Linked DNA regions of Homo sapiens. Each later gene encodes a partner of the first gene's protein in a complex. Each region holds a gene or a part of one and is shown in the gene's direction. Other genes may lie near its edges.

Region 1 (3,752 bases):
GCTCTAGCTATACCGAATTTCTTAGTGTTCCCCAAACATGAATTTTCACACCACTGTCTTTGCTCGGGTCATTTTCTGCCTGGAATGCTTTTTCATCCCACTGAACATACACAGAACTTACTTCTCAAGGTCCAATTCAAACACTTCCGTTGACAAGCCTTTTCCAATACTCTTTTTTCAAATTTCCCTACTCTGCAATAGAATGCTCTTGCTTCCTCTGCTGTACTACCGGCATGTTTTACACACTTTTTTTTTTTTAGACGAAGTTTCGCTCTTGTCACCCAGGCTGGAGTGCAACTGCGCGATCTCCGCCTCTCGGGTTCAAGCGATTCTCCTGCCTCAGCCTCCTGAGTAGCTAGGATTACAGGCACGTGCCACCAAACCTGGCTAATTTTTGTATTTTTAGTAAAGACAAGGTTTTGCCATGTTGGCCAGGCTGGTCTTGAACTCCTGACCTCGGGTGATTTGCCCCCTTTGGCCTCCCAAAGTGCTGGGATTACAGGCATGAGCCACTGCGCCCGGCCACATATAGGCTTTCTTTTCTTTTTCTTTTTTTTTTTTTTTTTTTTTTGAGACAGAGTTTCGCTCTTGTTGCCCAGGCTGGAATGCAGTGGCACGATCTCAGCTCACTGAAACCTCTGCCTCCAGGGTTCAAGCAATTCTCCTGCCTCAGCCTCCCGCGTATCTGGTATTACAGGCACGCGCCACCACGCCCAGCTAATTTTTTTGTATTTTTAATAGAGACGGGGTTTCACCATGCTGGCCAGGATGGCACATATATTCTTAATTATAGCAATTGCTCCCTTGTGCTGGTATTCGCCTTACGTGTTTGCTTTCTTTTCTAGACTACCAGATCAAATGGCTTATTTCTAGTTTCAAACTGTCACATAGGAAATGTTTGTTAAAACTAATGTTTTATAAAATTTAAAGCTTATTTTACATATTATCTCATTAGATCTCTCAAGAATTCTGTGAGCTTGGCAATGTAGATTGCTGTATATGCATTAGGCTGATGAACAAACAGGCTTAGAGATAGTCACTTGCCCGAGGTTAGTTAGCTGTTAAGTGTTGGGATTGAATCCCAGGTCTTCTCTCCACCACTTTCTACTAAAAATCACTGAAGGTTGTCAACCGACAGATAGGATTACTCTGTGTGTTGATAACAAAAGGGTGATCAATAATATCTGAAAAGGAAACTTTGTGTAAAAGTCTTTCCCTTACCTTAAAAACTACGCCACACTGGAGCATTCTTTCATTCCCCCAATTTAATTCTATCTGGCGAGAAACAATAATGGGCTAAACCATTATTGTATCGTAAGTCAAATTGCCAAAACTTCACAGGCTACTAAAAGTTAACCCTTATTGAATGAATTAAGAACCTTAGAAGTTCTGCTGTTAAAAAAAGCACGGTGACTGTCAGGGTTTTTCAGGTGTGGGGGGTGTGAGGGTTTTAAGAGTTGGATTCCTTTGACTTTGTCTCTATTATTATAGGCTTAGAGGTCCCGGGTAACTACCAATCGCTATCCAAAGGGAAAGCACCCTGTTAGAAATTAAGTAAGAAAAATAGTTTATATTCCCGGTCTGCCATTTCGATTCTAAGCTTTATCTTTATTTAGCTCACAGTTAAAGGGGGCATAGAGCCACACCCACCTCACAAACGCCGCAAGGATTGGGAGACCAGAAAAGTAAAAGTGACTTGCAAACCTTTAGCTCTAAGTCCATAAAAAAGACTATCATATGCTCACATTTCTAATCTTTGCTAGTATAATGTAATCTTTATTTTGAAAACAATGTGCCTCCATTCCTAGTAAAGCGAAAGTCACGGCGCTGCGACCCTCCCTTCAGCGCCTCCGGACTCTCACGCGATACTCGGCTTTCACGCTTTAGTCTAGGGCTGCACTGCAGGAGGAAGAGAAGCGCCTGTGGTGACGCACTTATTCCGCGCGATGACGTCACTGCAAGGCGCCGGGGGACACGTTGGCTGCGTTTTCGGCGGGCTTCCCGGGTACAAAAATGGCTGTGGCTAGCGATTTCTACCTGCGCTACTACGTAGGGCACAAGGGCAAGTTTGGGCACGAGTTTCTGGAGTTCGAATTTCGGCCGGACGGTGAGAAGAGGCCCACGGCACGCGGTGCTGGGAAAGGGGAGCGAGACCGAGAGGCCGGGTGGTGTGGAGGGTACAGGCGGCGGAGGCCACTGCTTCCCTCGAAGGAAATAGGAGCTTAAGAATAGAGGAGGCATAAGTTGGTTTTATAAATGAAAGAGAATTAATTGCAATAAATTAAAGCTAATCCTGTCACAAACTGAAAAGTTGAACCTACAGTAATCAGAATTCTGTAACAGTGCACCAGAAGGGACTCTAGATCGTCGCCCTGATTGAAAATGCTAGCACTTTTTTGAAAACACCCCCACCAGCGGGTGGTCCAGTGGATGAATAAAATCTTGTGGTGACCAGTACCTTTTTTTCATTTAGGCTGTGTGTTTTCTTTGAAGGGGAGGAGCCCAACGTGTTAACAAATGAGAATAATAATATGTTTTAGGTGTTTACGTGTAATTGTTCACCATAGGACGCATGAAGAGTACCAAGCAAGAGGGGAGAGGTAAAGTTCCACAGGAGGGAGTCAGGAAGATCTTCTTAGAGGACGGCACTCTTGAGATGAGTCTCGAAATGAGAGACTTGGCCTTTGAGAGAAAAAAACAGACTTCCAGAGCAGTATGAGCAGAGGATGAGGTGAAACTGCTACCCAAGTAGTGTGCAACAGTGTGTTTTCTGACAGCGCTATCCTTAGAGAATGTTACATTGATCTTGCCTACCTGCAACAAGAAAGTTCATTTGGATATATATTTTTTGGGTTTTTTTGAATGCACGTTTTGTGCTGGACAACAAGCAAATACAAAATTTTAAGGTACAGTAATGAGTAAGACAAATTTAACTAAAGCAGATTTGTCTTGGTGGGAGGCACAGACATTTAACTATAAAGCAGTATGCATATTAAGTCCTATAAGCAGGCTTTGGACAATGTTCTGTGAGAGCAAGAATAAAAAATTAGAGAAGGAACGTATATTAGGAAAGGAGAAGAGTATCAAGCATTTCAGGCAGAACTCACGTTAACTACAGTCCTGCAATTATTATTATTATTATTATTTTGAAACAAGGTCTCACTCTGTCACCCAGATCTGAGTGCAGTGGCACGATCTCAGCTCACTGCAACCTCCCCCTCCCTAGTGCAAGTGATCCCTCACCTCAGCCTGCCGAGGTGCTGGGAATACAGGCCCACGCCACCTCACCCAGCTAATTATGTTATGTTATGTTATGTTATGTTATGTTATGTTATGTTATGTTATGTTATGTTATTTTTTGTAGAGATGGGTTTCCCCATGTTGCCCAGGCTGGCTTCAAACCCCTGAGGTCAAGGGATCCACCAGCGTCAGCCACCCACAGTCCTGGGATTACAAGCATGAGCCACCGGGCCAGCCCTGCAATTATTTAGAAACCTTAATCACTGTATTTAACCTTACCGTCCCCATAAATTCAGCTAAATTTACCTGAATTCATCTATTCTTTATGTAGTATTATTTTCAGTTCCTCTGCCTGCGAACACCATCAAGCTTGTCCCTATCACTTTTAGCAGGTCACATGAATTAAGTACCTGAATATTATCAGGGAAGTTTTATGCTAGAACAGTGGTTCTAATCAATGTATCTGCCACTACACTGTTACACATACTTCCATTGGTGATATTGAGCCTCCC
Region 2 (3,752 bases), on another chromosome or scaffold:
GTACGAAAATAGCTGGGAGTGGTGGCATACGCCTGTAGTCCCTGCTACTCAGGAGGCTGAGGCATAAGAATTGCTTGAACCCAGGAGGTGGAGGTTGCAGTGAGCTGAGATCGCGCCATTGCACTCCAGCCTGGGCGACAGAGCAAGACTCTGTCTCCAAAATAAATAAATAATAAATAAAATATAAAGGACACCTATCCCTGTTGCAGTAAGAATTCCAAGTATAACTTTTGACTCACCCAAAACTTAACTACTAAGTCAACTGGAAGCCATACCAATAACATAAACAGTCAGTGAATATGTATTTTATATTTTATGTGTATTATGTACTGTACTCTTACAATGAAGCTAGAGAAAAGAAAATGTTATTAAGAAATCATTCACTATTAAGGAAACATACTATTCAGTGGAAGTGGATCATCATAAAGGTCTTCATCATCTTTGCATTGAGTAGACTTCAGAAGAGGAGGGGTTGATCTTGCTGCCTTGGGTGACAGAGGCAGTGGAAGGAGAGGCAGGCATACTTGCTGCAACTTCTATTGAAAAAAAATTTGCGTAGAAGTGGACCTGAGTAGTTCAAACCCCTTGTTCCAGCGTCAACTATACCCAGATGCTGAGCAGGGAAAAATGAGGAAGAGGGATTAATTGGCTTGTCTGGGCCAATCAGGCTGACTCAGCTCTATTTGAAGAGATGGCAGAAACTTAGAGTTTGAGAGTTTCTCAATCAGGAATTCAGGAATCTCATGTTGAGCCTCTTTGACCAGATTATTGGGGCCAGCCTGGGTCTTGAGTGACAGGGCAGTCTGGTTCAGTTCAAGTATCAGACCCAGTAGGTGAGTGAGAGACCAGTGTACATACATCTACCAGGTTTCAGATGTAACCCACCAATGAAGACTAGACCACCTTTCCTTGAACCCATTTCTCTGTGTTCTCGTAGGCCTCCCTAGCCATAGCTCTGCCTCCTTAGGTCCAAATCTGGGGAGGACAAGGAGAGGAGAGTAACCCTATTCTAAAGCCAGTTCCCTTATCATGAGCCTTAGCTGCTGCCTTTTCCTACCTAGAACTAGCCACACGTCCATTTCCTGGCCCTTTCTAATGGCCTAATGATCCTTTGTGTGTAGACCCAGCACTTTCTGTGTCATGAACAGTGTTACCCAATCTTGATGTGGTAAAAGAGGGAAGAAGATAGTAAAAAGAGAGAGAGAGCACTTGGACTAATTTTTTTCATTTCTGAAATGTGATGGTTGTACAAGTTGTCCTTTAAGGTTTTTTAGGTCAAATTTTTGTAATTATGTGATTCTGGATATGTTCTGGCTGCAGGAATTTTCTGCTGCAGAAAACCAGTACTCATAGGCATTAAAAAAAGCTACCATTTTCCAGCTTGAGGATAAGTGCATTGGGAAATCATGGAGTCATTATCAAGAGTTTGCACATCTGGTTGGGCGCAGTGGCTCATGCCTGTAATCCTAGCACTTTGGGAGGCTGAGGCAGGAGGTTCGCTTGAGCTCAGAAGTTTCAGACCAGCCTGGGTAATGTGGTGAAACTCTGTCTCTACAAAAAATACAAAAATTAGTTGGGCATAGTGGTGTACATCTGTAGTCCCAGCTACTTGTGGGGGCTGAGGTGGGAGGATTACTTGAGCCCAGGAAGTCAAGGCTATAGTCAGTTGAGATCACACCACTGCACTCCAGCCTGGGCGACAGAGTGAGACCCTGTCTCAAAAAAGAGTTGCATGTCTACTCATTCAGTTCTCATTATCTATAGACTAAAATATACATCTCCCCCCTTATGTACTACTATTTTTGAATATATGTAAATTAATAAAATGTAAACTTAAAGTGTTATTGAATGTATAACAGTTTGTTGTTTTTTGTTTGTTTTTGAGACAGTCTCTGTTGTCCAGGTTGGAGTGCAGTGGTGCGATCTCGGTTCACTGCAACCTCTGCCTCCCAGGTTAAAGTGATTCTCCCGCCTCAGCCTCCTGAGTAGCTGGGACTACAGGCACGCACGCATCAGTTCATTGTGTGTTTTTTTTTTTTTTTTTTTGAGACAGGATCTCTCTCTGTTGCTAAGACTGGAGCGCAGTGGCACAATTATGGCTCACTGCAACCTCTACCTCCTGGGCTGAAATGATCTCACACCTCAGCCTCCCAAGTTGCTGGGACTATAGGCGCACACCACCATTCCTGGCGAATTTTTTTTTTTTTTTTTTTTTTTTTGACAGGGTCTCACTCTTTTGCCCAGACTAGTATCAGTGGTGCAATCTTGGCTCACTGCAACCTCCACCTCCTGGGTTTAAGCAATTCTCTTGCCTCAGCCTCCCAAATAGCTGGGATTACAAATTCATGCCACCATGTCTGGCTGATTTTTGTATTTTTAGTAGAGACAGGGTTTCACCATGTTGGCCAGGCTGGTCTCAAACTCCGGACCTCAAGTGATCCACCTACCTCGGCCTCCCAGAGTGTTGGGATTACAGGCGTGAACCACTACATCCAGCCTAGCAGTTGTTTGTCATTGTATGTTTTCTCAGTGAATATCTCATGGGGATCCATGAAAATTTTTAGATCCTAAAAAGGGGTCCGCATAATCAAAAAGGTTGGGAATTTCTGCTCTAAGCCATTTTGAGATGGGAGAGTTCACAACTTACGTCAAAGTATAGTTATTAGGCACTGCATGTTTAAGAGACAATTCATGGGCCAGGTACAGTGTTCATGCCTGTAATCCCAGCCCTTTGGGAGGCCAAGGGAGGAGGATTGCTTGAGCTCAGCAGTTTGAGAACTGCCTAGGCAACATAGCGAGACCTCGTCTCTACTAAAAATAAAAAAAAATCAGCCAGGTGTGGTGGCATGTGCCTGTAGTCGCAGCTACTTGGGAGGCTGAGGTGGGAGGATCACTTGAGCCCAGGAGATTGAGATTGCAGTAAGCCATGATTGTGCCACTGCACTCCTGGGCAACAGAGCAAGACCCTGTCTCAAAACAGAAAAAAAAAAAAAGATAATTCATGGAGAGAGAGATTATCAAGGAAGATTAAGCTCCTCTTATATGTTAGGTATCGTATAGTAAGTCTCCCTTCCATTCTTATCCTCTGGGCCCATTAGAGGCTGCCGCTGTTTTTTTGTTTTTTTGTTTTGCTTTTTCGAGATGGAGTTTTGCTTTTGTCACCCAGGCTGGAGTGCAGTGGCACAAACTTGGCTCACTGCAACCTCCGCCTCCCGGCTAATTTTTGTATTTTTAGTAGAGACAGAGTTTCACCATGTTGGCCAGGCTGGTCTCGAACTCCTGACCTCAAGTGATACGCCTGCCTCGGCCTCCCAAAGTGCTGGGATTACAGGTGTAAGCCACTGCGCCCAGCCTGCCACTTTTAATAATTCTTGCATATGTTCCAGGAATACCTATGTGGATATATATGTATGTATGTGTGTATTTTTTTTAATGTGATATTTTTAAAATAGTGTCTTTTTTTTATTATTACTATTTTTTGCGACAGAGCCTTGCTCTGTCGCCCAGGCTGAAGTGCAGTGGCGCAGTCTCTGCTCACTGCAAGCTCTGCCTCCCTGGTTCAAACGATTTTCCTGCCTCAGCCTCCCGAGCAGCTGGGATTACAGGTGCCTACCACCAAGTGCGGCTAATTCTTATATTTCTAGTAGAGATGGGGTTTTGCCATGCTGGCCAGGTTGGTCTCACACTCCTGACCGCAGGTGATCTGCCTGCATTGGCCTCCCAAAATGTGATTACAGGCGTGAGCCACTGTG

The links. The genes of interacting proteins can lie anywhere in the genome.
Region 2: MAGOHB (region 1) and CASC3 share a complex: the UniProt entries of both Homo sapiens proteins name them as parts of the mRNA splicing-dependent exon junction complex.

What each region holds. Positions count from the first base shown.
Region 1 is NC_000012.12:10,611,794-10,615,545, reverse strand, and holds the start of MAGOHB (protein mago nashi homolog 2), read left to right. Parts: upstream 1-1,936; 5' UTR 1,937-2,013; coding exon 2,014-2,107; intron 2,108-2,567; exon of another isoform or gene 2,568-2,906; intron 2,907-3,752. UniProt on the Homo sapiens protein: Required for pre-mRNA splicing as component of the spliceosome. Plays a redundant role with MAGOH in the exon junction complex and in the nonsense-mediated decay (NMD) pathway.
Region 2 is NC_000017.11:40,157,518-40,161,269, forward strand, and holds part of CASC3 (protein CASC3), read left to right. Parts: intron 1-3,752. UniProt on the Homo sapiens protein: Required for pre-mRNA splicing as component of the spliceosome. Core component of the splicing-dependent multiprotein exon junction complex (EJC) deposited at splice junctions on mRNAs.